Homo sapiens: one gene and its partners. The protein of the gene in region 4 purifies or fractionates together with the protein of the main gene of each other region. This does not show direct contact. Each region holds a gene or a part of one and is shown on either strand. Other genes may lie near its edges. The genes, in order: CLIC4, NIT2, CYB5A, ETHE1, PPA1, POGLUT3 and SUCLG1.

What was found.
Region 1: the proteins of ETHE1 (region 4) and CLIC4 fractionate together in Homo sapiens (co-fractionation; one large-scale study listed by BioGRID). This does not show direct contact.
Region 2: the proteins of ETHE1 (region 4) and NIT2 fractionate together in Homo sapiens (co-fractionation; one large-scale study listed by BioGRID). This does not show direct contact.
Region 3: the proteins of ETHE1 (region 4) and CYB5A fractionate together in Homo sapiens (co-fractionation; one large-scale study listed by BioGRID). This does not show direct contact.
Region 5: the proteins of ETHE1 (region 4) and PPA1 fractionate together in Homo sapiens (co-fractionation; one large-scale study listed by BioGRID). This does not show direct contact.
Region 6: the proteins of ETHE1 (region 4) and POGLUT3 fractionate together in Homo sapiens (co-fractionation; one large-scale study listed by BioGRID). This does not show direct contact.
Region 7: the proteins of ETHE1 (region 4) and SUCLG1 fractionate together in Homo sapiens (co-fractionation; one large-scale study listed by BioGRID). This does not show direct contact.

What each region holds. Positions count from the first base shown.
Region 1 is NC_000001.11:24,751,947-24,755,446, reverse strand, and holds part of CLIC4 (chloride intracellular channel protein 4), read right to left. Parts: intron 1-3,500. UniProt on the Homo sapiens protein: In the soluble state, catalyzes glutaredoxin-like thiol disulfide exchange reactions with reduced glutathione as electron donor. Can insert into membranes and form voltage-dependent multi-ion conductive channels.
Region 2 is NC_000003.12:100,341,257-100,344,756, reverse strand, and holds part of NIT2 (omega-amidase NIT2), read right to left. Parts: intron 1-3,500. UniProt on the Homo sapiens protein: Has omega-amidase activity. The role of omega-amidase is to remove potentially toxic intermediates by converting 2-oxoglutaramate and 2-oxosuccinamate to biologically useful 2-oxoglutarate and oxaloacetate, respectively.
Region 3 is NC_000018.10:74,250,346-74,253,963, forward strand, and holds the end of CYB5A (cytochrome b5), read right to left. Parts: intron 3,321-3,618; coding exon 3,239-3,320; 3' UTR 501-3,238; downstream 1-500.
Region 4 is NC_000019.10:43,510,202-43,513,701, forward strand, and holds part of ETHE1 (persulfide dioxygenase ETHE1, mitochondrial), read right to left. Parts: intron 1,366-3,500; coding exon 1,236-1,365; intron 1-1,235. UniProt on the Homo sapiens protein: Sulfur dioxygenase that plays an essential role in hydrogen sulfide catabolism in the mitochondrial matrix. Hydrogen sulfide (H(2)S) is first oxidized by SQRDL, giving rise to cysteine persulfide residues.
Region 5 is NC_000010.11:70,226,930-70,230,429, forward strand, and holds part of PPA1 (inorganic pyrophosphatase), read right to left. Parts: intron 3,471-3,500; coding exon 3,412-3,470; intron 1-3,411.
Region 6 is NC_000011.10:108,481,385-108,484,884, reverse strand, and holds part of POGLUT3 (protein O-glucosyltransferase 3 isoform 1 precursor), read left to right. Parts: intron 1-2,662; coding exon 2,663-2,879; intron 2,880-3,500. UniProt on the Homo sapiens protein: Protein glucosyltransferase that catalyzes the transfer of glucose from UDP-glucose to a serine residue within the consensus sequence peptide C-X-N-T-X-G-S-F-X-C. Can also catalyze the transfer of xylose from UDP-xylose but less efficiently.
Region 7 is NC_000002.12:84,438,781-84,442,280, forward strand, and holds part of SUCLG1 (succinate--CoA ligase [ADP/GDP-forming] subunit alpha, mitochondrial precursor), read right to left. Parts: intron 2,680-3,500; coding exon 2,467-2,679; intron 2,325-2,466; coding exon 2,267-2,324; intron 1-2,266. UniProt on the Homo sapiens protein: Succinyl-CoA synthetase functions in the citric acid cycle (TCA), coupling the hydrolysis of succinyl-CoA to the synthesis of either ATP or GTP and thus represents the only step of substrate-level phosphorylation in the TCA.

The DNA of each region.
Region 1 (3,500 bases), on a different chromosome or scaffold from region 4:
TTTTTTTTTTGAGACAGAGTCTCACTGTCGCCCAGGCTGGAGTGCAGTGGTGTGATCTTAGCTCACTGCAACCTCCGCCTCCCGGGTTCAAGAGATTCTCCTGCCTCAGCCTCCTGAGTAGCTGGGATTACAGGCGTGCACCATCATGCCTAGCTAATTTTTGTATTTTTAGTAGAGATGGGGCCAGGAGTGGTAGCTCACGCCTGTAATCCCAGTACTTTGGGAGGCCGAGGCGGGCAGATCATGAGGTCAGGAGTTCAAGACAAGCCTGACCAACATGGTGAAACCCCATCTCTACTAAAAATACAAAAATTTAGTTTTTATAGAGATGAGGACTCACTATTTTGCCCAGCCTATAATTTTTTTTTTTTTTTTGAGACGGAGTCTTACTCTGTCGTCCAGGCTGGAGTGTAGTAACACAATCTCAGCTCACTGCAACCTCCGCCTCCCAGGTTAAAGCAATTCTCCTGCCTCAGCCTCCCGAGTAGCTGGGATTACAGGCGCCCACCACCACGCCCAGCTAATTTTTGTATTTTTAGTAGAGACAGGGATTCACCATGTTGGCCAGGCTGGCCTTGAACTCCTGACCTCAGGCGATCCACCCACCTCGGTCTCCCAAAGTGCTGGGATTACAGGTGTGAGCCATGGCAGTGGGCCTATCATTGTTATTTCTTATTTCTTATACCAATATCTGGAACTGACCACTGAGAGATAAGAGGCAAGTCTCGAAATAGACAATATAATTAAAAGCCATGAGAAAATTCACTAGCTGATGCCCTAAATTACATTTACATGTCTTAAATCATCCTTGGACAATAGGTAACCATGACCTAATGTCATTTTCCTTCAGAAAGTCCCTTTCCATTCTCTATGCAAGCGTCTAAAACAGGCAAACCCATCCTAGCTTACTCCTCTACTTGACCAAAATCTTAACTCATGCCTTAATCACACTTCCCATCCTGCCTAACACATTTTCCTTTTATGGACTCACAATTCCCTACTCAGGGGACATCAGAACACGGAGGCTCCACAGCTCTAACGAAACAGGAAGCGGAAAAGGATGGCTCACCATCCTTACTTACTGGCTTCTAGGCACCTCTGCAGGCATCTTCCCAAACCAACTGTGACATTTCCTGACAGCCAGGTTCTTCTCCCAATTGCCTCTTTCCTATCATTATTCATACTCTGTTAAGCTTTTCGTGTGCTCAGTCTCCTAGGCTCAAAGCCTCCTGCCTCTTCCCCATTCTAGGCTCCTTTCTCACAGGTTTTTACATTAAACCAAAATCATCAAATTTGGCCTTTGCCAAAAGTAGCATTATTAGGTCTTCAGGAACAGCTCAGGCAAAAAGTTAAAATAATAGGTTTTCATTAACTTCATACTTTACATTCATTTCTGTCTCCTGAATTTTCCCCCCGGAAACCTCAAATGAATGGCAAATCAATTAGATTCAAGGTAATATTGTCTGAATATTGAGTTAGCTTTTGTTAATTACCAGAACAGTTTTCAGCATCATTTCCTATAGAAAATTTATTTCATTTTTTTCTGTTAGAAAAAACAAAGACGGGGGGAAGTTTGAAGCCTGTCCTTGAAACAATATAAAGAATTCCCACTTTAAACTGTCAAAACAGTCCATCTGTACAATCCATTTGCACCTTCCCAAGTGCCACTGAAAAGTTATTAAACAGACAGCAATCCAAAAACACAGGAAAGTGTGGGGAGAATGAAAAAAGTTAGGAAAATGTATACATTAACAAAAACCCAAGTTAGGTTTTAAAAGTCTCATCCTCAACTTTTAAATAACTTGTCTCCCTGGCACTATAGATCTGAATCACTCCTGGTTCCTTCTTAGGTATCAATCTACCAATTGTTTCCTGCATAAGGAGTTTCCACATAATGTCAAAACTCACATTCCCATTCTTGGCTATTCCGAACCCACCTATTCACCTCCTTTTTCAAGGTCAAGTTTAAGCCTCCTTCCATCTTTCCCCATGTCTCCTAGCCCTACTTAATGTGAGCCCCACTTGACTCTTTAAGCATGGACCATCTTGTATTGTTTTCTTTCCAATAAAATTTGTAAACCTAAAGAAATTAACTGTTTAATAATTTCTTATATCTTCCATAGTACTTAACTCAGTATTAGCACTTAGTTCATGCCGGTACATTCTTTAAGTCATAGTTAATAATAACTAGAAGAGACCTTTGTGATCATCTAGCCCAAGCCCTTCTTTTATACCTTGCTTATATAAAGTATTCTTGACTCTAAGAATTCCACTATTTACTTCTTTTAGAACAGTGGTTCTTAGCCTTGGTTTAGGAATTTCCAGAAAAAAAGCCTCACATTAGAATTTTTTACTGTAATTTCAAGGATTTACAGAACTCCCTGATCCTACTAATAGAGCCCACATTTAAAAATAATATACTATTAGGCTGGGCGCGGTGGCTCACGCCTGTAATCCCAGCACTTCGGGAGGCCAAGGCGGGCAGATCATGGGGTCAGGAGATCGAGACCATCCTGACCAACACGGTGAAACCCCATCTCTACTAAAAATACAAAAATTAGCTGAGCATGGTGGCACGCGCCTGTAGTCCCAGCTACTCCAGAGGCTGAGGCAGAAGAATCGCTTGAACCCGGGAAGCAGAGGTTGCAGTGAGCCAAGATTGCACCACTGCATTCCAGTCTGGCGACAGAGCGAGACTCCGTCTCAAAAAAAAATAATAATAATAAACTATTATCGATGACAAAAGCAGGTGTTTACTATGTGTCAAGCACTCTTCCTAAAGCTTTACATAGGATGGTATACGGTTAGACCACACTTGCCAGCCTCTCTTGCAGATGAAGCTATGTGATTAAGTTCTCTCCAATAGAATGTGACCGGAAGTAACAGGTAGAACTTCTGAGCTGGGGCCCTTAAGATGTGCTTCCTCCATATTTTCCACCCCCCACTGGCAACAGACAGTACTTGTCACCCACCAACTTTGACAATTCAGAAGAGGACAATGCTCTGGGAGTTAGTGGACAAATAAGCTAGAAAGAGCCCGGGTCCCTTAATGACTCTGAGGAGGAAAGCCACCCTAACATCTAAGACATTCTCCTGGACTGAGGGGTGAGAAATAAACTTCCATCATATTTGAACCACTGTTTGTGGGGGGATAACTTATTACAGCAACTTAAACTACCCTAACTAATATGCACAGATTAACAGTTTTAATCCCCTCAGTAACCATATAAAATTGCTATTATTATTATCCTGATATTAGAAGTTAGGAAACTGAAGCACTGAGAGCTTAAAAACTTGCCTGACATACTAGAAGCCAGATTCAAGTCAAGCAGTGTGGCTCCAGAGTCCAAGCACATTAGGAACCTCTGCCAAATATCTCAAAAGAAACAGACTCTTATGTGTTATGCCACCCTGCACCAGATTAACTTTTTACAAACACCACCCCAATCCCAGCAGCTTGGTGACTACTTGCTGACAGTGATCATCCCAGTTCACAGTGG
Region 2 (3,500 bases), on a different chromosome or scaffold from region 4:
AGAGAACAGCTTGAACCAGGGAGGTGGAGGTTGCAGTGAGCCAAGATCACACCACTGCACTCCAGCCTAAGCGACAGAGCAAGACTCCATCTCAAAAAAACAAAAACAAAAACAGAAAATGAAAGAGCATCTAAAAACACCAATGAGGAATAAATCTCACAAATGTTAAACAAAATTATACCCAAAAAACTATAAAAAGAAATTGAGAGAAAGTAAAGAAAGCGTAATAAATGTCAGGATATATACCACATTCATGGACTGGAAAACTTAATACTAAAAAGATATACTTCAAAGAGTTGGGTTAATAGTCCAATGCTGGCTGTTCTTCCAGCAGGTACACAGTAGCTCCTATCAGACCAGTTTTCTTGTGGTTAACTATGAACTCTGGACAAAATAAAAGGCACAACTACTTAAAGCACTGAAGAATGACCAAAACAAAGCAGACAAAATCTGAAGAGAAGAACACAGACATGTGGAAGCAGGGAACAGCCCTGGGTGAACTTCCTGGTGCTATTTACAGCTGCTACCCTGAAGCAAGGTCCCAGTTGCTGTGATAAGTAGTGGTGAAAATGACCCATAATCACACTGGCTTGAAGAACCAGAGCTGGAAACCAAGGGGGGAAATCCTGAAATGGAGAAAGCAAAGAGGGAGAGCCCTAAATTCTGCATATAAAATCTTTCTAAATCTCTGGCTGATCACTGAGTTAAATAGAAGTGGGGCAGAACAACCAGATAGAACAGAGCAGCTAAAGTTGCTGCCCACGTTTCAAAGAAGATAAGAGTTTGGTGTTTGGGTGCGGCCAAGTTAACCATCAGTTAAAACAAAATATTCAACACTTTTTGGAAGACTGTAATAGCATCTTGAATCTCTACAATATATAATCCACTGTACAATCTTAAATTAGTAGATACTCAAAGAAACAGAAGTGTGATCCAAACTGCAAAGAAAAGGCAATCAAATGAACACAGATCCTGCCATGACCCAGATGTTATAATTTTTTTCTTGTTGTTTGCTTGGATATGAGTTTATTTACATCAGGGGCCTTTTAAAGGCCTAATAGTCTCATTCTGTGGCACACAGATGTGATAATTATCAGACTTTAAAGCAGCTATAGAAACTAACTAAGCTCAACACTGTAAAGAAAAATATGCTTTTAATGAACAAATAGAAAATATCATAGAGTAATAAAAACTATAAAAAAGAAGCAAAGGGGTATTTCAGAACTGAAAATTTTAATATCTCAATTTTTTAAAATTTCACTGGGTTGGCTTACGGGAAATTGAAGAAGACAGAAGAAACAGTGAATAAGTCTGAAAGATCAACAGAAATTATCTAATCTGTAGAAGAGAAGGAAAAAGTATTGGAAAGACAAAAACAGAAAAACAGAGCCTGGTGACCTTGGAAAAATATTTAAAAATATAATATACATATACTGGAGCTCCATAAGAAAAAGGAACAGAAAAATATTTAACAAAATAGTGTCAAAAAACTTCCCAAACACAGTGAAAGATTTAAATTTACAGTTTCAAGAAGTACCAAGGAAGGCAAAGACAAAGGAAACCACATCTAGGCATATCAGAGTCAAAATACTAAGAACTAAAGATTATGAAAACACTTGAAAGAAGGAGAGAAAAAACAACAAATTATATCCGAGGGAACAATACAAATTACTACTCACTTCTCATCAGGGAAGAAAAAAAAAAAGGCTAGATAACAACTACTAGTGGAAAAAAAGGAAAACTATCAATCCAAAATTCTATTCCAGCAAAAATATCTTTCAAGAATGAAAACAATGTAAAGATATATTCATAAAGAAAAACTAACAGAATTCCTAGCTAACAGATCCTCAGAACAAAAATTCTAAATGAGATCCTTTGGTCTGAAGGATATACCAGATAGAAGGAGGATCTTCAGGAAGGAAAGAAAAACACCAGAAATGATAAATATTTGGGTAAACATAAAGATTTTTTTCTTCTTAATTTCCTTAAAATACATATGACTATTTAAATCAAGTATTCCTGTTTTGTGGGATTTATAACATATATACATGGAATACAAATGACAACTATAGCATAAAGAATGAGGGCAGGGGCAGTGGGGTAGAAAAATGGACCTATATCATTATAAGGTTCTTAAATTTCACATGAAATGATATAATATGAACTCTTAAGTAGCCTGTGAAAAGTTAAGGATGCATATGATAATTCCCAGGGCAACAACTGGAAAAAAAAAAAAAGCTAAGATGTATAACTAAAAAGCCAATAGATAAATTAAAACAGAACTCTAAAAAATATTCAATTAATCCAAAATAATACAGAAAAGATGAACAAAGGGAAAAAAAAGTAAAATGTCTCTATCCCTAAATTCAATCATATCAATAAGTGCATTAAATATAAATGGACTAACCACTTCAATTAAAAGACACAGATTGTCAGAATAAAGAAAAAATTAAGATACAATTATATGCTGTTGACAAAAGAGATCCACTTAAAATATAAAAACACATATAGCTTGAGAACAAAGAACTGGAAAAACCACGTACCAGCAAACATTAGGCATAAGAAGGCTGGAGTGGCTATAGTGATAGCAGAGATAAAGCAGAATTCAAGACAAGAGGTATTACAAGAAAAAAAAGAGATATTTCATAATGATAAAAGGGTCAACTCATCAAGAAGACTTAATGATACTAAATGTATATGATTTTTTTTTTTGAGATGGAGTCTTGCTCTGTCTTGCCCAGGTTGGAGTGCAGTGGCGCAATCTTGGCTCACTGCAGCGTCCACCTCCTGGGTTCAAGCAATTCTCCTGTCTCAGCTTCCTGAGTAGCTGGGACTATATAGGTGTGCACCACTACACCCAGCCAATTTTGTATTTTTAGTAGAGATGGGGTTTCACCATGTTGGCCAGGCTGGTCTTGAACTCCTGACCTCAGGTGATCCACTTACTCAGACCTCCCAAAGTGCTGGGATTACAGGCATGGGCCACTGCACCTGGTCATGTATACGCATTTAATACTAAAAAGATGGCAACTCTTCCCACAGTGTTCTCTATATATTCAATGAAATACTAATAAAAATTACTATAGGTTGGCTGGGCACGGTGGCTCATGCCTGTAATCCCAGCACTTTAGGAGGCTGAGGCGGGTGGATCATGAGGTCAGGAGATTGAGACCATCCTGGCTAACACGGTGAAACCAAGTCTCTACTAAAAATACAAAAAATTAGCTGGGCATGGTGGTGGGCACCTGTAGTCCCAGCTACTCGGGAGGCTGAGGCAGGAGAATGGTGTGAACCCAGGAGGCAGAGCTAGCAGTGAGCCAAGATTGTGCCACTATACTCCAGCCTGGGTGACAGAGCGAGATTCTGTCAAAAAAAAAATTACTATAGCTTGTTCCTTTGCAGAAATTGACAGGCTGAGTCTAAAACTTATATAAAAATGCAAATGGCCAAGAATAACCACCTGTGCCAATCAGTCAAAACCCTAATACATGTGTGATATA
Region 3 (3,618 bases), on a different chromosome or scaffold from region 4:
ACCGCCAGGTGAGGACTGCTGGCCACCAGTGGCAGCTGGAAGAGGTGAGGAAGGATTCCACCCAGAGTGTCGGAGGGCGAGTGGCCCAGCTGAAACCTTCATTTACAACGTCTGGCCTCTAAATTATGAGAACACATTTCTGTCGTTCTAAGCCACCCAGTTGTGGTGTACTTGGTTACAGCAGCCTAGGGAAACTCCCACAATCTAGGTAGAAGCTGAGGATCCGGACGCCATCTGTGTCTGCACACCTCTCAGAAAGGCTACGCTGCAAAGGAGAATCTGCTTCCAGAACTTCCACTTGCCTTCATCTAGACACCTCCAGAGGAAGGGAGATGCCTGTTCCAACCAGAGCCCTAATCATCAACTCAAACCCAGGAGGTGAGCAACTGACACACGTGCACCCAATACAGTCCCTGTGTTACAGGAAAGGGGTCCCAATCCAGACCCCAGGAGAGGGTTCTTGGACCTCGCACATGAAAGAATTCAGGGCAAGTCCGCAGTGCAAAGTGAAAACAACTTTATTAAGAAAGTCAAGGAATAGGCCCGGCACAGTGGCTCATGCCTGTAATTCCAGCACTTTGCGAGCCTGAGGCGGGTGGATTGCCTGAGGTCAGGAGTTCAAGACCAGCCTGGCTAACATGGTGAAATCCCGTCTCTACTAAAAATACAAAAAAATTAGCTAGGCATGGTGGCATACGCCTGTAGTCCCAGCTACTCAGGAGGCTGGGGCAGGAGAATCACTTGAACCTGGGAGTCGGAGGTTGCAGTGAGCCAAGATCATACCACTGCACTCCAGCCTGGGCGACAGAGTGAGACTCTGTCTCAAAAACAAAAAAAAAAAAAAAAGAAAGTTTACTTTGCCAAGGTTGAGGACATGCCCGTGACAAAGCATCAGGAGGTCCTAATGACATGTACCCAAGGTGGTCAGGGCACAGCTTGGTTTTATGCATTTTAGGGAGACATGAGACATTGATCAATATATGTAAGAAGTACATTGGTTCTGTTTGGAAAGGCGGGACACCTTGAAGCAAAGGCAGGAAGACTCAAAGCAGGAGGGAGCTTCCAGGTCACAGAGAGGTGAGACACAAAGGGTTGCATTCTTCTGAGTTTCTGATTAGCCTTTCCAAAGGAAGCAATCAGATATGCCTCTCTCTCAGTGAGCAGAGGCTTGACTGAGTAGAATGGGAGGCAGGTTGGCCCTAAGCAGTTTCCAGCTTGAGTTTTCCTTAGTGATTCTGGGGGCCCAAGATGTTTTCCTTTCACAAGCAGCAGATGAAAAGAAAGGGCAGCCTCTGAAGTCTCTCACCTCTCTGAAGGGAAAGCAATAGAGAAAAAAGTGTCAAATATCTTTCCTTGAGAGTCTGGCTGCACAAACTGTAAATGTTAAAATTAGGAAGTAAACTCTCCTTTACTCCACATGTTGTTCCCAAAACACATGAAGAAACATTGCCAGCCACAGCAGCAAATTGCTGAGTCACTGATAAAAATGTCAAAGTTCAACTGTTATGTTTCTTAACGATATACAGATGCTATTACTCAACATCTTAAAAATGATTTACAAGTTAACCCTTTAATGTCATCTAAGGTACGACTGACCCACTTCGATTCACTTCATAGTTGATTTAGGAGCAATGTTTTAAAAACTACTAAAATGTGAAGCTTTATAGCTAAAAATCACAACCAAAAATATTGAAATATTTACATAGGTCCCTTAACAAGTGTTGTAATTTATTTTGAAATAGAAACTACTTGTCAACTTTCAGTGACTAAAGAAGGCAAAGGCGGTGCATCCTATTTGATTATAAAGGTTGTACTCTGTAAGAACAACACAATTCCTTTCCACTGCACGCGGTCACTTCTGAAGAACCTCGTGGTTTGTCAGCTCATGCCAGTGCAAATGCAGTCACAGCCAATGACACATGTACTGGGTTCTAACAAATTCAGCTTTCAAGTTTCCACATTTAAAAGAATAACACATAAGGCAGAGAATAATAAATGGGAAGTAAGATGACTGAATCAGCCCCTTAGAGCCCCCAGGAGGAGACAGAGCCACACCAGAACTCTTCAGAGCTTGACACTAGCCGCTAAATTTCTTCAAAGATCAGATTCCAATGTCCCACAATCTCCTTACAAATTAGAAAACCAGCCTTTCCTTAGAAGAGTTTACAAACAATTCTACTCTCTGAATGAGGAATTCTTAAAACTTTAGAACCTATGAAGCTGTGAGTGCCTTTGCAATGATACGTGTAAGCTGAGAGAATGGACAGTTGCGATGCCCTCTCATGGTTCATGTGTTTTTAAGTTGCTGATGTTTTTCAATCAGTGAAGATAAGAAGTCTCTCTTATAGGCCCTGTAGGCTACTTTCTTTTTTTTTTGAGACAGAGTTTCACTCTTGTTGCCCAGCTGGAGTTCAACGGCGCGATCTCAGCTCACTACAACCTCTGCCTCCTGGGTTCAAGCAATTCTCCTGCCTCAGCCTCCCAAGTAGCCGGGATTACAGGCATGCGCCACTACGCCCTGCTAATTTTGTATTTTTAGTAGAGACAGGGTTTCACCATGTTGGTCAGGCTGGTCTTGAACTCCTGACCTCAAGTGATCCACCCACCTCAGCCTCCCAAAGTGCTGGGCTTACAGGTGTGAGCCACGATGCCCAGCCGCTACTTTCTTTTTAAGATCTATTTCAAGTAGGACAATTATTAGAAATCCTTAAACTATAATTTCTGGCCTTTCTTAATTTCCTTGAAAAAAAGAAACTATATCGGAAGCATACAATACATGGTTACTCAATGAGATGTGACGATGTGAAAGGAGACACTCAAACCTATTTCCCGCACCTCCAGTCATATGGCCTCTGTGGGTCTGGATGAGTAACACATTGAAGGAATCCTCTAAATAACCAGATTCTAAACATTAAAGACAATTATACACCAAACAGGCAAACACGGTGCATACTTTAAAAGCCAAATATATTTTTAAAAGATCATGCTTATAATAAGTAAATTACACATTAAGGAAACATCAAAATAAAGTAGATGAATAAAAAGGCACACTCGAAAAATTTGAGCGCAGAAAGGACAGTTCTTTTTGTTTTGTTTCTAATGTCGGAAGAAAAAGAAAGAGATATATTAAAATCATTGTTTTCAAGTGAAGGTTTCTGTCAGTTGAAGTAGTTAGCAATGGCTTCTTTTCTCCCGTGTCCAAAGCAGGCTCTTCCTGCGCTGACTTCTGAGGAGGTGTTCAGTCCTCTGCCATGTATAGGCGATACATCAAGGCGACGGCCACTGCAGAGATGGCAGGGATCACCCAGTTGGTCCACCAACTAGAAAGACACAAAAAGCAATGATGCTGACATGATGTGCACTGTGGTGGACTCAAAATCTTTGCTCCTTCTAACAGAAAATTACCAGGGCATGTTTTTCTTAACTCTGTAATGAATTTTGCTGAAAAGGCAACGTGGATTTGCTAAAAGTGACATGAGTGTAACACATGCCCTGCTATACTAGGAATCACTCTGCCCTGCTGGCTTTATGAGAAAACTCATGCCCCACTTGGCTGGGCTCAGTGGCTCACGCCTGTAATCCCAGCACTTTGGGAGGCCAAGGCAGACGGATCACTTG
Region 4 (3,500 bases):
GAGATTCTGAAACTATACTCGCTTTCTACAGGGAAGCTCCTAAATCTAACTGCCCCTAGCAGCTAGACTCCAAATGGATCATTCATTGCTCCCTGGCAATTAAACCGCTGGCTTTAACAACTTCTTTTTTTATCTTTTTTTTTTTTTTTTTTGAGATGAAGTCTCACTCTGTCACCCAGGCTGGAGTGCAGTGGCGCAATCTTGGCTCACTGCAACCTCCGCCTCCTGGGTTCAAGTAAATCTCTGCCTCAGCCTCCCGAGTAGCTGGGACTACAGGCACCCACCACCATGGCCAGCTAATTTTTGTATTTTTAGTAGAGACGGGGTTTCACCATCTTGGCCAGGCTGGTCTTGAACTCCTGACCTCATGATCCACCTGCCTCGGCCTCCCAAAGTGCTGGGATTATAGGCGTGAGCCACCATGCCCAGCCCTTTGTTTTTTTTTTTTTTTTAGCTATATTTGTTTCTTAGAGAGGGAGTCTCACTATGTTGCCCAAGCTGGGCTCAAATAGGTAACTAACACACCCCTGAATCTAACTGTCCCCCAACAGCTAAGCCCCTGAATCTAACTCTTCCCATACTCTAGCATGGGGGTCCTTAACCCTGGGTACCGGTCCGTGGTCTGTTAGGAACTGGGCTGTGCAGAAGGTGGTGAGCGGTGGGTGAGTGAGCAAAGCTTCATCTGTAGTTACAGCCACTCCCCATCACTCCCGTTACCACCTGAGCTCTGCCTCCTGTCAGATCCGCAGCAGCATTAGATTCTCATAGGAGCACAAACTCTATTGCGAACTGCACATGCGAGGGATCTAGGTTGCGTTCTCCTTATGAGAATCTAATGCCTGATGATCTGTCACTATCTTCCGTCTCTCCCAGATGTGACCATCTAGTTGCAGGAAAACAAGTTCAGGGCTCCCACTGATTCTACATGATGGTGAGTTACATAATTATTTCATTATCTATTGCAATGTAATAATAAAGTGCACAATAAATGTAATGCATTTGAATCCCCGAAACTATGCCCTGCCATGGTCCATGGAAAAATTGTCTTCCACGAAACCGGTCCCTGGTGCCAAAAAGGTTGGGGACCACTGTTCTAGCAGGTAAACTCCTTGAATTTAATACTGAAGCCCCCTAAAAGTCTAATGTCCATCCATTCATTCTTGTAACAGATACTTCAACACTTGACACACACGTAACTATATGAAGATCTTGGGCTGGATAAAGGAGCTGGTCACCTTGCTGGAAGTCTGTCCGCCCACACCCACGGATCAACAGGGCATCTCCAGTGAAGGCCATGCTGTGGTCATTCAGGACGAAGGTGACACAGCCTGGGGTGTGGCCAGGGCTGGCCCTGGTCTCCAACGCCTGGCAGGGGTGGAAGAGTACAGAGATAGTCACCAAGAAGCCTTCTAGATGAAACTGGCCCCCAAAGCCCCACCCTACCCCAGGGTCTTATCTAGATAAACATTTTGGTAAAAAATGTAGATTCCCAGGCTGTAATCTTATATTATCAGAGTAAACTCCAAGTGGATTAAAGATTTAAATGCATGAAAAATAAAACCGCAAAGCTGTGACACACAACAACAAAAATACAAATAATATCTGACCTCTGGTTAGGAAGGTGATATGGTTTGGCTGTGTCCCCACCCAAATCTCATCTTGAATTGTAGCTCCCATAATCCTCATATGTCATGGGAGGGACCAGGCAGGAGGTAATTGAATAATGGGGGCAGGTTTTTCCCATGCTGTCTCGTGATGATGAATAAGTCTCACGAGATCTGATGGTTTTATAAAGGGCAGTTCCCCTGCACACTCTCTCTTGCCTGCTGCCATGTAAGACAGGTCTTTGCTCCTCCTTCGCCTTCCACCATGATTGTGAGGCCTCCCCAGCCATGTGGAACTATGAGTCCATTAAACCTCTTTTTCTTTATAAATGACCCAGTCTTAGGGATGTCTTTATTAGCAGCATGAGAAAAGACTAATACAGTAAATTGGTACCAGTAAAGTGGGGTGCTGCTATAAGGAGATGTGAAAATGTGACTTTGGAACTGGGTAACAAGCAGAGGTTTGAACAGTTTGGAAGGCTCAGAAGAAGACAGAAAAATGTGGGAAAGTTTGGAACTTCCTAGAGACTTGTTGAGTGGCTTTGACCAATATGCCGAGAGTGATATGAACAATGAAGTCCAGGCTGACATGGTCTTACATGGAGATGAGGAACTTTTTGGGAACTGGGGTAAAGGTCACTTTTGTTATGTGTTAGCAAAGAGACTGGCAGCATTTTGCCCCTGCCCTAGAGATCTGTGGAACTTTGAACTTGAGAGAGATGACTTAGGGTACCTAGTAGAAGAAATTTCTCAGCAGGAAAGCATTCAAGAGGTGACTTGAGTGCTGTTAAAAGCATTCAAGAGGTGACTTGAGTGCTGTTAAAAGCATTCACTTCAGTTTTATGTATTCACAATGATATGGTTTGGAATTGGAACCTATGTTTAAAAGGGAAATAGAGCATAAATGTTTGGAAAATTTGCAGCCTGACAATGTGATAGAAAAAAAAACCCATTTTCTGAGGAAAAATTCAAGCCTGCTGCAGAAATTTGTATAAGTAACGAGGAGCCAAATGTTAATCACCAAGACAATGGGAAAAATGTCTCCAGGGCATGTCAGAGGTTTTCACAGCAGCCTCTCCCAACACAGGTCCAAAGGACTAGGAGAAAAAATGGTTTCATGGGCAGGGCCCATGGCCTTGCTGTTTTGTGCAGTCTCAGGACTTGGTGCCCTGCATCCCAGTCGGGGCTAAAAGGGGCCAAGTACAGCTCAGGCCATTGCTTCAGAGGGTGCAAGCCCCAAGCCTTGGTGGCTTACACGTGGTGCTGGGCCTGCTGGTGAACAGAAGTCAAGAACAGAGGTTTGGGAGCCTCCAGCTAGATTTGAGAGGCTGTATGGAAATGCCTGGATGTCCAGGCAGAGGTGTGCTGCAGGGGTGAAGCCTTCATAGGGAACCTCTGCTAGGACAGTGCAGAAGGGAAATGTGGAGTGGGAGCCCCCACAGAGAGTTCCCACTGGGGCACTGCCCCTAGTGGAGCTGTGAGAAGAGGGCCATCGCCCTCCAGAACCCAGAGTGTTAGATCCACCGAGAGCTTGCACCATGTGCCTGGAAAAGCCACAGATACTCCACACCAGCCCGTGAAAGCAGCCAGGAGTGGGGCTGTACCCTGCAAAGCCAGAGGGGCAGAGCTGCCCAAGACCATGGGAACCCACCTCTTGCATCAGCATGACCTGGATTTGAGACATGGAGTAAAAGATCTTTTTGGAGCTTTAAGATTTGACTGCCCCACTGGATTTAGGACTTGCACGGAGCCTGCAGCCCCTTCATTTTGGCCAATTTCTTCCATTTAGAATGGATGTATTTACCCAATCCCTGGATCCCACTGTATCTATGAAATAACTAAACTTGCTTTTGATTTTACAGGCCCATAGGTGGGAGGGACTTGCCTTGTCTCAGA
Region 5 (3,500 bases), on a different chromosome or scaffold from region 4:
TAGAACCCTACATTGTCAGAACTAGAATTTAACATGAAAGTTTAAGATATGGAATAGAAAAATATCTGATTTCTAAAACTAAAAAATCAGGTCATGATATTTGAGCACTTTAAGATTTAGAGAAAGCTTTTATCTACCCAGTGTTTCATACTGTTTATACCATGTTTTGGAAAATTTCTGGTATCTCAGAAGTTTTATGTTAGAAGATACTCTGAGCTATAGGTGCTTTTATATTTGATCCTAAAATTGACCCAGAGCAAAGGACATCCCTACAATTTAAAAATATCCAGTGAGCCCTTGCCTTTACCTTCTCTACCCACTGGATTCGGAAATAATCAAAGCAGGGTACGCGAGTCACAAGATTTTCCAGAACTGGCTGGACTGATTACCTAATGGCATATGCCAAACTGAATATCCACATTAAAAGGTCCTGATATGGGTTGGACACAGTGGCTCACGCCTGCAACCCCAGCACTTCTGGAGGCTGAGGTGGGCAGATCGCTTGAAACCAGGAGTTCGAGACCAGCCTGGGCAACATAGGGAAACCCTGTCTCTACAAAAAAATAGAAAAATTAGCTGGGCGTGGTGGTGTATGCCTGTGGTTCCAGCTATTCAGGAGGCTGGAGCAGGAGGATCACTTGTGCCTGAGAGGTTGAAGCTGCAGTAAGCCAAGATCATGCCACTGCACACCAGCCTGAGTGACAAAGTGAAACCCTATCTCAAAAAAAAAAAAAAAAAAAAAAAAAGTCTGATATGGATATGAGCCCTTGGGCATTTTTCCTTAGTCTGATATCAATATGAGCCCTTGGACATTTTTCCTTAGTGGAGCTGACTGAGCTGTGTTAAAGGTACATGCTCACTAGATCATGACATTCCCTCATTATAATCCCTCGGATGACTGACCATATTAGGAATAAAGTCCAAGGCCAAGCCCGTGAGAATGTATTCATGTAAACTTAATCACAATAGATTTTTTATACAAAAGAAAGAAAATCACACTCTAATGAATCAAGTTAATCAGATTTTTTTTTTAAGGCTATAATCCAAAATGATGTCTACCACACCTTTATTTGTGTTTTAAACAAGTAACTTCCTTTAAAACAAAACAAAAGAATTCCTTCCAGCCTCTCAGGCAGGAAGGCTTCTGCCCAAGGTCCACTGAGGTCTAGACTACTGGTAAAATCCAGAGTCATAAGAACTTGTGCTTTTGAGCTGGGACAGGGCGTGCCAAGGGCAGAGTCTTCCTTTGAGTAATCCACTTTATAGACACAACCAGTCCCTTATAAGGCTTCAGTGTCTGAGAGTAATCTAAGTGAACACACTTAACAGGACACCAAAATGTAGCCTGTTTCCTATTTTGGAGTAACCTGAAGCAGCAATAAGAGTAGGTACCAAAACATCTATGATCATTCTGGTCCTTGGTAGGAATACAGTCACTTAGAACACTGGGAAAATAGCTCTATGTCAAGAAAATGTTTTCCTACCTGTAGCATACCTGTATGCCAGGGTATTATCAATAAACTTAGGGTCATCATTTTATACCTCTTCATTGCTCAAAATGGTCTGAGATGCTACAGTATGATATACATGCTATTATACAACAAGCAGATAATTCAAGCCAACCCAATGGGGCCAATTGAAGAGGGAAGGATTCTGCAGTTTATATCAACTCCCAGGAAATCAGATGTAACAAATTCGAGTTTCTGAATAAATACCACTCTGACACTCCCACAGGAAAAACACATGCCAATTAGAAGTCCCTCCTGTATTTGTGGCACATAATTGGCCTAGGGCTGTTTGCTCCATTGCCTCTAATTGGAGTCTTACCCAGGAAGGCTCCTGGGAAGCAATGTAAAAATTGGAATTTCAGGCAGTACAGAACTGCAGCAAACTTCCTGGTAGAAGTGCAATGAATGTGTCTATTTCTATCTAATAGTCAGGCCCAGAAAAACAGTAAGACAGCACACACAAGAACAAAATTACTATTATTCTAGACGTGCACTGCAAAGTGATGTTCGTGTTGTATATTGACATCTAGCTAAAGAAAGTCAATAACCTATGTAACTCTTACAACTCAAAAACCTTTGTACTCAATGTGAATCAAACTTCCTTACTGAAGGAAAAAAACTGAAAGGTAGAAAAAGAATAAGATATTTGTCCTTGTGTTAAGTTGCTAAATACAGTACAAACTGCTTCCATTGGAAAGGAGAGTAAGAAAAGATGTGTTTTTTAAAATGACTGTTTAAAGTTGTTCTTATAACACATGTTCTTTGTAAAAAGATTAGACAATATAAAAAGACAAAAATGAAAATAAAACCAAGAGTCACTGGCAGTCCCACGAATCATAACTATTTTGATATATATTTTATTGTTATTTATTTTCCTAAGACAGGTTCTTGCTATGTTGCCCAGTCTGGTCTCAAACTCCTGGACTCAAGTGATCCTCCCAGCACAGCCTCCCAAGTGGGATTACAATTGCCCCACACTCAGCTATTCTGGTGTATACAGTTGTAGACTTCTTTTTCCCCTAGAAAAGTAAAGACTTTTACAATTTGTGGTAAGCCTACCAATCTGTATTAAAGTTAGGTTTCTTCTCACTGGTGTATACAGGAACAGCTATGTCCTTTTAGAAGTCTGTGTGCCTACCTGTATTAACTCTATCTTAACTGTGCAAATCTTAACGGTACTAGCCCGTTACTAAATTTTCCTATACTCATTGAATAATCTAGTTTACTTTTACTGTTTCATAAAGATCCCACAGCCAAAATTCTGTGCTGGCTACCTGGTTTATTTTAGAACCAGTAATGAAGTATTACGACTTTAGTTCCAAATACACATACAAAAAGGACCAATGTAATTTTTTCTTTTTTTTTTCCAAGACAGATTAAATACTTTTGCTTTTACTCCTCCTCTCCTTCCCCAAATTATATTTGCTCCTTTAACTAAATAATCTAGTTTTAAGACTAACTTCTTATTTAGTCAATGGACCTTTTTTTTTGAGACAGGGTCTCACTCTGTCACCCAGCTGGAGTACAGTAGTGCCATCTCGGCTCACTGCAACCTCTGCCTCCCAGGCACAAGCGATCCTCTCACCTCAGCCTTCCAAGTAGCTGAGACTACAGACACATGCCACCATGCCCGGCTAATTTTTGTATTTTTTGTAGAGACAGGGTTTCACCATGTTGCCCAGGCTGTTCTTGAACTTCTGGACTCAAGCCCTCCACCCGCCTCAGCCTCCCAAAGTGCTGGGATTACAGGCGTGAGCCACCACGCCCAGCCTAATCAACAGACCTTTAGCTCACAGCACAACGAGGCATTTTAAGCACTTGTTGAGAGACATATAAGAAAATTCATATGTAGAACTAGCTGATCTGAGTAAAGAGACTGTGTCCAAAAACAAGGATGCCTTACCTTATCTGCATAAATTGGAATATCATGAAATGGAGATATATATTGTCCTTTCTCATTTTCTGCAAAATAAATTAGAAAAAGTTATTACT
Region 6 (3,500 bases), on a different chromosome or scaffold from region 4:
ACTTAAACCACCTTTTGTTCTTGTTTCTGATCATACAGGGTGAAGGATGGAGGTGGGCAATATTTATCTTTCTTACTTAGAGAGACCATAAAGGGAGTTTTTTTGTTTGTTTGTTTGTTTGTTTGCTTTGAGATGGAGTCTCACTCTGCCACCCTGGCTGGAGTGCAGTGGCACGATCTCGGCTCACTGCAACCTCTGTCTCCTGGGTTCAAGCGATTCTCCTGCCTCAGCCTTCTGAGTAGCTGGGATTACAGATGCACGCCATGCCTGGCTAATTTTTGTTTTTTTAGTAGAGAAGGGGTTTCACCATGTTGGTCAGGGTGGTCTCAAACTCCTGACCTCGTAATCTGCCCGCCTTGGCCTCCCAAAGTGCTCAGCATGAGCCACTGCGCCTGGCCAAGGGAGTTTTATAAACCAAAAAAAACACAGTTTTCCTGATATGTTATACAATTCCCCAAGTATGCTGACTGTGTGGCTGCAGTCAGTTCTTACTTTAAATAGCAGTCCCCAACCCCTCCACCACCAGCCCACAATGTGAGGATACAAGCATGTGATGGGCATCTGCTCCTAAAGGTAGTGCTCTCTTCCCGGGCTACAACTAGTCAACTGTGCCCTGTATTCTTGCCTCTTTAATCCATGTTGCTGGCTTCATAGCAGTAGATTTCAACCAGGGATGATTTTGCCCCTCAGAGGACATTTGCCAATGTCTAGAGACATTTTTGGTTGTCACAACTCAGGGGTTGCTATTATCATCTAGTGGGTAAGCATCCTACAGTGCAAAGGATAGCACCCCCCAACCCCATCGCAAAGAATTATCCAGCCCCAAATGTCAATAATATGAGCTTGAGAAACCCTACTCCACAGTGAGCACTTCCAATGTGGAGTTTATTAAAGAGTTTATAAATAATAGCAGGGAGGCTGGGCACGGTGGCTCACACCTGTCATCCTAGCACTCTGGGAGGCTGAGGCAGATGAATCATTTGAGGTCAGGAGTTTGAGACCAGCCTGGCCAACAAGATGAAATCCCATCTCTACTAAAAATACAAAAATTAGCCGGGTGTGGTGGTGCGTGCCTGTAGTCTCAGCTACTTGGGAGGCTGAGGCACAAGAATCACTTGAACCTGAGAGGCAGAGGTTGTGGTGAGCCAAGATCACGCCACTGCACTCCAGCCTGGGTGGCAGAGTGAAACACTGTCTCAAAATAATAATAATAATAATAATGACAGGGAAGCAAGAGGGTGAATATTCACATCTCTTGCCCTTTCCTTTTGTTCTTTGCCCAGTGGCTGGGGAAGAAATAAATCTAAGATAAGTGAGACTCAGTCCTAGTCTCTGAGTAGCCCACTGTAGTGGGATTTGTTTTTGTTGTTTGGAAGTGGGGGTGGGATGTGAATACAAACAAATAATTATATCCCAATATGATGATAGGCCTCAAGAGAATTAAGTACCTAGGGTTTAAGTGCCTGAGGAGGGTGAGTCATAGAAGAGGTGGTGTTAGATCTGGGCTTGGAGGATGAGAAAGGAGACTGCCAAGTTAAATAAGTAAAACATTCCAAGTGAATGGAATTACATGTTGAGGTGGATGGCATTTTCAGAGAGTAGCCTAAGGTTTCCTGGTAGGTGGGCAGATGAAAGATGAGGCTTATAGCCAAGCTGGGACAAGATTGTGAGGCCTTGAATGCCAGCCAGAGAGTTGAGATCTTGTGCCATAGGCTTAAGGTTCTGTTAAGCTTGGTAGTGACATTAACAAAGTTATTTTAGAAATTTTAGTTTTAGAATTAATTTTAGTTTTGGAAATCTGAGCAGCCTTGTGGAGAGCAGATTACAGTATGGAGAGCCCAGAATCAGAACACCTAGTAAGGAAGTTATTGCAGCAATCTAGGCAAGAAATGATGAGAGTCTAAACTGAGACATTGACCGTGGAGATGGAAATGGACTGGCAGGTTCCAGAGGCAAGGGCACATGAGGCAAAGATGGGGACAGTGAAGGAAAACAAGGGTTTGGTTCTAACTTTGTAGATTCTCTTGCTTAGGCAGCTGGCAGAGGGTTATCGAAGCTATTCATTCTTACCTCTCTACACAATTTTCACTTCTCTAACACTACATTTTATTTTATTTTATTTCTTTTTCTATTTTTTTGGAGACAGAGTCTTGCTCTGTCGCCCAGGCTGGAGTGCAGTGGCGCGATCTTGGCTCACTGCAACCTCTGCCTCCCAGGTTCAAGCGATTCTCCTGCCTCAGCCTCCTGAGTAGCTGGGATTACAAGTGCCTGCCACCAGCCCAGCTAATTTTTGTAAGTTTAGTAGAGACAGGGTTTCACCATGTTGGCCAGACTGGTCTTGAACTCCTGACGATCCACTCGCCTCAACCTCCCAAAGTGCTGGGATTACAGGTGTGAGCCACCACGCCCAGCCTCAAACACTGAATTTTACATGCATCTCTGGACAGAGGTAGCTGACTCCTGGTTAAGTGAATTTGTCATGCAGGATCCTCACAGGTGACAAATTCACAGCCATCCTGTCAATGACAGGCATTCTTCTCTCTTCTCTGTTTTTGAATGGTTAGCCCTGTCAAAAATATGTAAGAAAACCAAAGAACTGTTGTACTTAGTACCAAAGACTGAGATCTTCCCAGCACTGATGTTTGTTTATATGTTTATTTAGGTCCTTCTCCCAGATTTAGAATTTTATGTTAATCTTGGAGATTGGCCCTTGGAGCATCGAAAAGTCAATGGAACCCCTAGCCCCATACCTATCATTTCATGGTGTGGCTCTCTGGATTCAAGAGATGTTGTCCTTCCAACGTATGACATCACCCACTCCATGCTTGAAGCCATGCGGGGTGTTACAAATGATCTCCTCTCTATTCAGGGAAATACAGGTATTCAGGGAAATGCAAGGCTAATTAATGAAGAAAAAGCTTAGAGACAGAGTGGGTTATACATATATGTTTGCATTCAGTAGCATATTAGAAAAAGTCTTGTACTGAAAATTCTGACCAACCTAGGGATTAAAGATTTGTGGATGTTCCTCAGTTATATAGTTTTTTCTGGTCACCCTTTGTAAGAACAAAGGGCTAGCTCACGTTTTATTGTGAAACACAGAAAATGGAAGAAGCTAATGCCTTGGTGAGTGGACCCAGTCACTGAATCTCTTTTTTGCTTTGAACACGGTCCGACATTATTTCAGGTATTTCCTAGTATTATACAACAGAATACACGAATACTTGCGTGAGCTTTCACTAGCAGACAAATGGATGAAATTAGAGCATTCTTTTACATAATACAGCAAATAAAAAGACTGTTTTTTTTAAACTCTAAACTTGAAAGTGCTTCTGGCAAATTGAGACTCAATCCCATATTTTCGTTGAAATAACATCTACTTTAGAAGATGAGTTGATAAAAGAGCTTTAGCATCTTAAATGACAATGGTAGATTAAAGAGGATTATGCTTGCCATATTAAAATGTCAAATTCATAATCCTAATTTTTTTATGGCTTCAA
Region 7 (3,500 bases), on a different chromosome or scaffold from region 4:
TGTAGCTAGGATTGTAAAACGCACCAATCAGCGCTCTGTAGCTAGCTAGAAGTTTGTAAAATGCACTAACCAGTGCTCTATAAAAACCCACCAATCAGCGCTCTGTAGCTAGAGGTTTGTAAAATGGACCAATCAGCAGGACACGGGCAGGGGACAAATAAGGGAATAAAAGCTGGCCACTCCAGTCAGCAGCTGCAACCCACTCAGGTCCTGTTCCATGCCATGGAAGGTTTGCTCTTTCACTCTTCACAATAAATCTTGCTGCTGCTCACTCTTCAGGTCCATGCCACCTTTAAGAGCTGTAACACTCACTGCGAAGGTCCGCGGCTTCATTGAAGTCAGCGAGACCAAGAACCCACTGGAAGGAACCAACTCTGGACACAGTGTCACATATTTTCTTCTTTTTTTTAAAAAAAAAAAAAAAGTCCTTTTTCAAAGGAATTAAAAGCAGTCTCCCAGACGACTGTCTCATCAATGGGTTATGACCATTCACAAAGGCAAGGTCTAAAGGACTTCCCTGAACTTCTCTTGATTTTCATTTTTTAGGTTTATGCTCACCTTAGAAAGCAGAGCAGTGATCAGAAAGGCAACTCAGCACAGAGCATTCCTTCCATGCTCACCTTAAGACCACAGCCTTCAAAACAGACCCAAGAATATAAGAAATATTCAAATATGTACAAGAGCATCAGTGATACATGGATCTGGCCCCACTGGAACTCAGATGGCCTATGGAGCTCCCTGAAATCTCTCTTGTAAATGAAATTATCAAGTACTGCCACTGGCAGCAGGGCTGACAGCTCCAAGAGACATTGGTAATAAAGAAAAATCATGATCTTTAACCCAATTCTGTAAACTGCACAGCCGACACCCACTGTGACAATTAATTACCCTTATTAGTAGCCATGGTTTATAGATAGAGAAAAATATGGTCAATCATCTTTCATGACTGAAAAACAGTATAGTTTAGAGAAATTTTGGTGTAAAGCCTAAACACAAGCCTAATGTGGCTAACTTTGAAATGTTACTTTGGCTATTTCCTCAAGGAACTAACCAAGTAGCAGGGCAATTTTCCTGACAGGCCATCTGAGTTCCCTTTCTGATCACTGCCCTGCTTTCTAAGGTGCCTACAAACCTAAAACATTTTGAGAAAGTTTGTGATATCTAAAAGAACAAGGTAATTATTGAGCAGGTATGTGAATGGCCTTATAAGCACATGAAAAGGTGCTCTACATTATTAGTCATCAGGGACACTCAAAACCACAAGAGATACCATTTTACTCTCAGTAGAATGGCTACATTTAAAAAGGCTAATAGCCGGGCATGGTAGCTCACGCCTGTAATCCCAGCACTTTGAGAGGCCGAGGCCAGCAGATCACCTGAGGTCGGGAGTTCGAGGCCAGCCTGACCAACATGGAGAAACCCGTCTCTACTAAAAATACAAAATTAGCTGGGCGTGGTGGCGCATGCCTGTAATCCCAGCTACTCGGGAGGCTAAGGCAGGAGAATCACTTGAACCTGGGAGGCGGAGGTGGGGGTAAGCCGAGATCGAGCCATTGCACTCCAGCCTGGGCGACAGAGCAAAACTCTGTCTCAAAAAAATGAAGACTAACAATACCAAATCTTTGTGAAGATATGGAGCAAGTGGAACTCTCCTACATTAATGGTGAAAATATAAAATGATATAGCCACTTTGCAGAACTATTTGGCAGTTTCTTATAAAGTTAAATATACTTGACTTATGTTCATATGAACATGACTTAGCAATTCCATTCCTACACATTTTGCCCAAGAGAAACGAAAATGTTTCCACAAAAAGACCTGTACACAAATGTTGACCTAAGCCTTGTTTGTAAGGCTCAAACATGAAAACAACCCAAATGTTCATTAATGGGAGAATGAATAAACAAACTGTGGTATAATTATACAACAGAATACTCCTTAGCAATAACTAAGTTATAACAGTTAATGAAATTAACTACTGATATATGCAAACACATGGAGTAATCCACAGAGTGCTGAGCAGAAAAAAATCTTTAAACTCCCACCACCAAAAAAATCTTCACTGATTCTGCAGAATTGTAACGGCTTCTCAAATAAACTCATTATATTCAAGATACAGAATTGATAGACTACAAAACTTCCCTGGTAAATTCTACTCAAGTCAAATTAATTAAACTTGATTTGCAAAGTCAAAAATTCTTTGTGAGTTTTGAGGGTTTAAGGCAAATAACGTTTTAATCTATAAGAATGTAACAAACAAACTCACCAATCCTTCCTTTTTTGTGAATATGGCCAGGCATGATGCCAATTTTACATTCTCCAGGCTGAAAGTAATCATAGTTTTCAGAAATGTTAAAAAAAAAAGTCACTCACAGGTCATACACACAAATACACTCGCATTCACTCAAAGCTGTTTAGCCTTGTGAGAGGCTTAATCTGAGTTTCTTTTTGTTTTTTTGCACTCACATTGATGACTCCAGGGCAGTTGGGCCCAATTAGCCTTGTCTTTTCCTGGCGCAGCAGTTTGTGCTTGACTCGTACCATGTCCTGCTGGGGAATTCCTTCAGTGATACACACAACCAAGGGAATTTCTGCCTCAATAGCTTCATTAATGGCAGCAGCAGCAAAAGGCGGAGGAACATAAATGACAGAAGCCGTTGCTCCTGTCTGTTCTTTGGCCTGAAACATTAACGACGAAGCACCTTATTATTTGTTAAATCATAAACATTGTAAAATAAATTCAATACCATCATTTTAATAATGTCTTGGGGTAAGAAAAGGACACTACCCAGAGACATAGCATTCTTCCCATTCTCAAATTTGCTACACTGTCAGAGTAGAACAGAATCAAGCATAGCCCTTTCTCAGCCCATTTGAATGCCACTGTGAATTGAAAGCTTCTGTGACATCTCACTCTCTATGGCATGTCAGTAAATCTGAAAGCAGCCTGACAGTGAACAGAGTCAAAGAATGCCAACATATCATCCACAAATGATGCCGGGGGTTAAAAATAATTTTTTAAAACTCTGTTCAAGATGATAACAGAGGGGGAGACACAAAAAACATTAAAACTAGTATGGAATCAAAAAAAGTCACATCATGGGGATGTAGGTACTTTAATGAAAAGTACCTACATTACATAGTTTTCTACCTCTAAAGTCTACAAATACTGCCAGAAGCTATACTGTGACAACAGCAAATATTGTGCTGGGACGTCATATGGATGAAAGGTACCAACCCTACTCATTCAAAAAGCCCTTTGTAAGAGCAGAACGGGTGAAAAATAAACAATATCTGTCAAAAAACTTATAGAATATTCCAAATGTCACAACTATTTGTGTCACTATAAATTATAAATGGATTGCTTAGCAAGAAGAACTTTCTTTAAAAAAAAAAAAAAAGCAAAAAGAGGCTCATGACAAAAGAAAAGTCAACCTAGAGGAATTGTAAAAAAACATCTCCTCTCTATATTTTGAGGTTATAAAATCAGCCATAATAGA